Regions from separate parts of the Homo sapiens genome. Here region 1 is linked to region 2. The links come from fine-mapping of genetic effects on gene expression. A gene starts in region 2. The other region holds a variant in brackets. All regions are shown on one strand. Distances are between the middles of the regions.

Region 1 (2,916 bases), 260 kb before region 2:
TTGCCCAGGCTGGAGTGCAGTGGCACGATCTCACCTCACTGCAACCTCCACCTCCTAGGTTCAAGCGATTCTCCTGCCTCAGCCTCCTGAGTAGCTGGGATTACAGGCATGTGCCACCACACCCAGCTAATTTTTGTATTTTTAGTAGAGACAGGGTTTCCTCATGTTGGCCAGGCTGGTCTCGAATTCCTGACCTCAGGTGATCCACCTGCCTCAGCCTCCCAAAGTGCTGGGTTTATAGACTTGAGCCACCGCGTCTGGCCACTTGTCTTTTTTGATTTCTTTCATTAGTGTTTTATAATTGTCAGCATATAGATTTTTTGTTGTAAATTGACAATTTTTTTTCTTTAATTTTATATATTAAAAAAAATAGAGACAGGATCTCACTGTGTTGCCTAGGCTGGTCTCAAACTCCTGGGCTCAAGTGATACCCTTCCCTTGACCTCCCAAAGTGTTGGGATTATAGGCATGAGCCAACATGCCCAGCTGCAAATTGACATTTATTTATAATTGTATAAACATAAAGATTTTGTATATGTTTTGTTAGATTTATACTGCAGTAGTTTGTAATTGCATTGTTTTTAACATTTTGATTTTCAAATTGTTCAATGCACAAAAATTATACAGAAGTCCAGTTAATTTTTGTATAGTGACCTTGTATTTTGGGACCTTGCTAAAATCACTTACTAAATCTAGTAGCTTTCTTTGAATGTTCTTTTGGATTTTCTTTGTAGACAAACATGTCTTCTGTAAGCAGTAATTTTTTTTTCTTTCTTTCTGAGCCATGTGGCTTTTATTTTATTTTTGTGCTTTATTACATTGGCTAGGACCTCCAGTGTGATTTATTGTGGTAAAATATATATAACATTTATAATTTTAACTTTTTTAAGTGTACAGTTGTGTAGTATTAAGTGCATTCATATTGTTGTGTAATCATCTCCACCATCCATCTCCAGAACTTTTTTTTCTATACTCAGTAAACAATGATTTACCATTTTCCCCTCCCCTATCCCCTGGCAGCTACCATTCTACTTTCTCTCTCTATGAATTTGGCTATTTGGGGTACTTCATTTTTATGGATTGAATGTTGTGTCCCACCAATTATGTTGAAATCTAACTCCCAAAGGGATGGTATTTGGAGGTGTGGGATTTAGGAGGTAATTAGGTCCTGTGGGTCCAGCCTTCATGGATGGGATTAATGCCCTTATGAAAAGAGGCCAGAGAGCTAACTTGCTGTCTTTCTGCCATGTGAAGATACAGTTCAAAGTCAGTAGTCTGCAGCCCCAAAGAGGGCCCTCACCAGAAACCCACAATGCTGGCACCTGAGCTGCTTTCAGCCTCCAAAATTGAGAGAAATAAATTTCTGTGGTTTCTAAGCCACCTAACCTATAATACTTTGTTATAGCAGCCTGAAGTAGAGGACTCCT[A/G]TAAGTATTTGTCCTTTTGCAACCTGCTTATTACACTTACCAAAATGTCTTTGAGGCTCATCAGTGTTACAGCTTTTGTCAGAATTTCACCCTTATTAAAAACTGAACACTATTCTGTTCTGTGTATATGCCACATTTTGTTAATTCATTCGTCCATTGGTGGACATGGGTTGTTTCTACCTTCTGATTATTGTGAATAATGCTGCCGTGAACATGAGTATACATCTCCTGAGTTTCCTGCTTTCAGTCTTTTGATTATATACCCAGAAGTAGAATTGCTAGATCATGTGGTAATTCTATATTTAATTTTTTAAGGAACCAACATCCTGTTTTACACAGGAGCTACGCCATTTTACATTCTCACCAGCAGCCCACAAGGGTTCCAGTTTCTCTACATTCTCACTAGCACAACTAATAGAAAATGAGGATTCCTCTTCTAGGCCTTGAAAGTGCTGCATAATTTTGCTTCTTCCTACCTGTCTAACTTAACTAAAGCGCTTCTAATTTCTGTGCTCAAGCTACACTGTCAATTATTCAGTTTCTCAAACCTAGTGGTTTCCATTTTTTTAAATTGACTTTTATCTTTTAGAGGAATTTTAAATTTACAGCAAAACGGAGTGGAAAGTCCACTGGACACACACAGCATGCCCTACTGTCAACATCTTGCACCAGTGGTACATTTGTTACCATCAGTAAACCTATGCTGGGACACATCATTATTATCCAGAGTCCAAGGTTCACTTTTGGTGGTACATATGCTATGGATTTTGACAAGTGTTTTGACATTTTTAAAGATCTTTTTCTGTATCTAATGAGATGGTCATATTTTTTTTTCCTCTGGGAGAGAATGGTAACAATTTTTCACTATTACAGAATCATACAGAATACTTTCACTGTCAGAAAAATCCTCTGTGCTTCACCTTTTCATCTCTTCCTTCTTGTAAACTGTGGGAACCATGGATCTTTTTGCTATCTCCATGGTTTAGCCTTTTCCAGCATGTCATATACAGTTGTGCGTCTCTTAACAATGTGGATATGTTCTGAGAAATACATCATTAGGCAATTTCTTTGTTGCGTGAACGTCATAGGGTGTATTTATACAAACTTAGATGGTATAACACTACGCACCTAAGCTATATGGTATTACTGCTCCTGCACTACAAACCTGTGCAGCATGTTACTATACTGAATACTGTAGGCAGCTGTAACACAATGGCAAGTATTTGTGTCTCTAAACATATATAAACATAGAGGAGGTACAGTAAAAGTATAGTATAAAGGATAAAACATGGTACACCTGTCTAGGGCACTTAACCATGAATGGAGCTTGCAGGACTGGAAGTTGCTCTGGGTATGTAAATGTGTGGTAATGTAAAGGCCTGGGATACTATATACTACTGTAGAATTTGTAAACTCTTATTCTGTACCAAATTTAAAAATTTATGTTTTTCTTTCTTCAATACTAAAGTAACATTAGCTACTATAACTT
Region 2 (2,916 bases):
CCTTCTATATGCCTGCCCAGCAAACCTTCTCATCCTTCAAGTCTCTGCTCCTGAAATCTTCCTGGATTTCTCCAGTCTCTGGCAGTGCTTCAATGTTGCCACTGCACTCTGTACATACCTTCAATTATCTTGTACAGTGATCAGTTATTTGCATGTCTTTGACCAACAGACTGTAAGTTCCTTGATGGTCAGGCATTGTCTTTTCATCCTTAGATTCCCAGCAGAATTACCAAACACAGAAGTAGACATCAAAGAAGTATTTCTTGAATGAATGAAATTTTAAAAATCATTAAATCTAAAAGTGAATTATGTTTGGTTCCTAAATTCTCTGCTTTGCCCAGCTGTCAAGACCCCCTTACCCCTTTCCCAAGTTGGGACACACTTCTGGCAGCTATGTTCCCAGCTGGACTAGCAGGGGCAGAGGCACTGGTTTATTCTAATTGTCTCTTCGCTGATACAACAAGGTGCTAGTTGGCCAGAGCCCCAAATTATACATTAGCAAATCCTGACTGACAACAGCGTGAAACCAGCAGGACAAGTTTTAAGAAGTTGCAAAGGTTAAGACGTGAAGGACAACGTGGGAGGAGGACCGGGCAGAAAGGGATTCAGGACGAGATCCATCTCACCCTCCGTGGAGGGAAAACCGAATGATTTCTACTGAGTTTCCCTAGTTCCTGTAATCTGCTTTCAAAAACTCAGAACTAAAAAGGAAACAAAAAACTAACACGTAAACCCCTCCTCCTTCCTACGGCTCTGACATTTCCTCTGCGTAGGATTTCGTTGCTCCAAACCCACCAGGCCTAAGCCATGTAATCCGACGCGATCCGTCGGCTTGATGACTCACCACTGGAAAGCGCTCCCTGCAATCCCTCACAGTTCAGACAACTAAGTCCGAGATGGAAGGCAACGTGTGACTCACGGCACACTCCTTGTAACGCCCGGGCGCCGTCCATTCGCAACATCAGTCCCTGCACATTAAATGCGGAAGGGCCCTTCAAGTTCATTCATTCATTCATTCCACAAACTTTCGTGGTGATTTTTGCCCGCTTTGAGTATGGGCGGGAGGAGGGAAGAGGAGCTGACCAGACCCAAAAAGGGGCGACACACGCCGGGGAGGGACGCCACGCAGGCCGCGGGCGGACTCCCGGGCGGCGGGGACGCGCGGGGACCCGGCCGCGGGACGAGGGAGGCCGGCGGCTGGACACTACCTGCGGGAGAGCGAGTGAGGTTCTGGCCCTCCGAGTTGACCGCCTGCAGGTAGAAATAGCGGACCGGCAGGACGACGGCCGCCTGCAGCCCGGGCCCCCACACCAGGCTCCGCGGCGCGCTGACCAGCACCTCCGGGGCCCCCGCGGCCACCAGCAGGGCGAGGCGCAGCTGCAGCAGCAGGGCCCGCGGGAGGCGGCGCATGGTCGGCGGGGCACAACTGCGGTCCAGCTCCGCGGCGGCGAGGAGGGGCCGGCAGCGCCGCGGACCGGGCGGGGACTGGGGCCCACCGCGGGGCGGGTCTTTCGGGCGGGAAAGATTGCGGCGCAGGCTCCCTTTCCCGCCCGCTGTCCCGCCTCGTCTCCCTCGGGCGGGAACGCGAGCCAGTGCCGCAATCACCCACTGCGCGCCCTGTAGGGGTCGACGATGGGTGCGCCCCTTCCTCCCCGCAGCCCCATAGGCCCCGTGGAGGAAAGGGGTGGAGAGGCCCGCCCAGAGACCGAGGCTGCGAGTGTGCGCTGGCTGTTGATTGCCAAGGCTTCAGGCACGCCTGGCCTCCACTTCCAGTGGTCTTTCCCTTTCTTTTTCTTCCTTCCTTTCCTTCTTTCTTCTCTTTTCTTTCTCTGTTTTTATACAGACAAGGGGGCTGGCTCTGTCGCCTAGGCTGGAGTGCAATGGCGCGACCACAGCTCACTGCAGCCTGGAACTCGTGGGCTCAGGAGATCCTCCCGCCTCAGCCTCCCGAGTAGCTGGGACTGACTGTAGGCACACGACACCACGCTGGCTAATTTAATTTATTATTATTATTATTATTATTATTATTATTATTATTATTACTATTACTATTTGTAGAGACGGGGTCTCCCTATGTTGCCCAAGGTGGTCTTGAACTCCTGGTTTCAAGCAATCCGCCCGCCTCGGCTTCCCAAAGTGCCGGGATTACAGGCATGAGCCACCGGGTCCGCCGCTCAGGTGTTTTTAAAGGACGTAGACCCGGTGGTGATTGTTGTGGGACGATGAAAGGGTCCGGCCCCAAGATCGATGTAGTTTAGGGAAATATCTTTTCCCAAGGAATGTCTCCGAGTTTACAAGATGAGCGCCAAGGTCACGCCCCCCGCCCTCCCTCACAGCCCTCTGTTCACAGCAGCACCGTTCTCTTGTGGCCGGTTTTGTTGCTTTTCTGCTTAGCAGCCTCCCTCACAGAACCGTGATCCCCCCACCCCACACATCCCTTTCCCCGCTTCCTCCCGCACTCCTCTTCTTCCAGCAGGTGTTTACAGAACATCCACGGAGTTTGGGCCAAGCCCAGAGTGAGGAGCTGGGCACTGGGGTGGCAGAAGACCAGGCCTTGCCTTGAGCCCTTGTGCGAGCTTTACCTCAAAGCCTCTGTAATCGAAGTGGGAGAAGGGGTGGTGGTGCGTGGTTGGTCTCAGCCACCTCCACCACTCCTCAGAAGATGAACGCTGGATCCAGGAAGAGATTGTCAAGGTTACTATCTGCCTCTCTTTTTTGATCATTTTATCCAATTTGTTAATGGATACAAATTTGTTAATGGATTGTTAATAGATCTGAATTTATTTAAAGCCAATAAAGATTCTCCTCTGGCTGAATGATCCAGAAGGAACTCACACCCCAGAATGGACACAGGATTTCTGCACCCTCTTGGGGGAACTTAATGCCCAAAACATCAGAGCCAGGCACTGGACAAGC

Evidence for each region. PIP is the estimated chance that this variant, and not a neighbour inherited with it, causes the effect.
Region 1: its variant is fine-mapped to the expression of POGLUT3 in whole blood (TOPMed, PIP 0.98).

What each region holds. Positions count from the first base shown.
Region 1 is chr11:108,237,964-108,240,879 of GRCh38, forward strand. All of the region lies in intron 5 of ATM (ATM serine/threonine kinase), which reads left to right. Among named protein-coding and RNA genes, the nearest start is that of ATM, 16 kb to the left of the region's middle. The variant A/G (reference allele first, on the strand shown) is at 1,428.
Region 2 is chr11:108,496,957-108,499,872 of GRCh38, forward strand. It overlaps POGLUT3 (protein O-glucosyltransferase 3), which reads right to left and starts at 1,428. Exons shown (of 8, transcript NM_153705.5): 1 at 1,209-1,428. The coding sequence starts at 1,410. LOC112267909 (a long non-coding RNA gene) reads left to right here and starts at 2,105. Exons shown (of 3, transcript XR_007062880.1): 1 at 2,105-2,694. RefSeq lists a silencer at 1,061-1,580.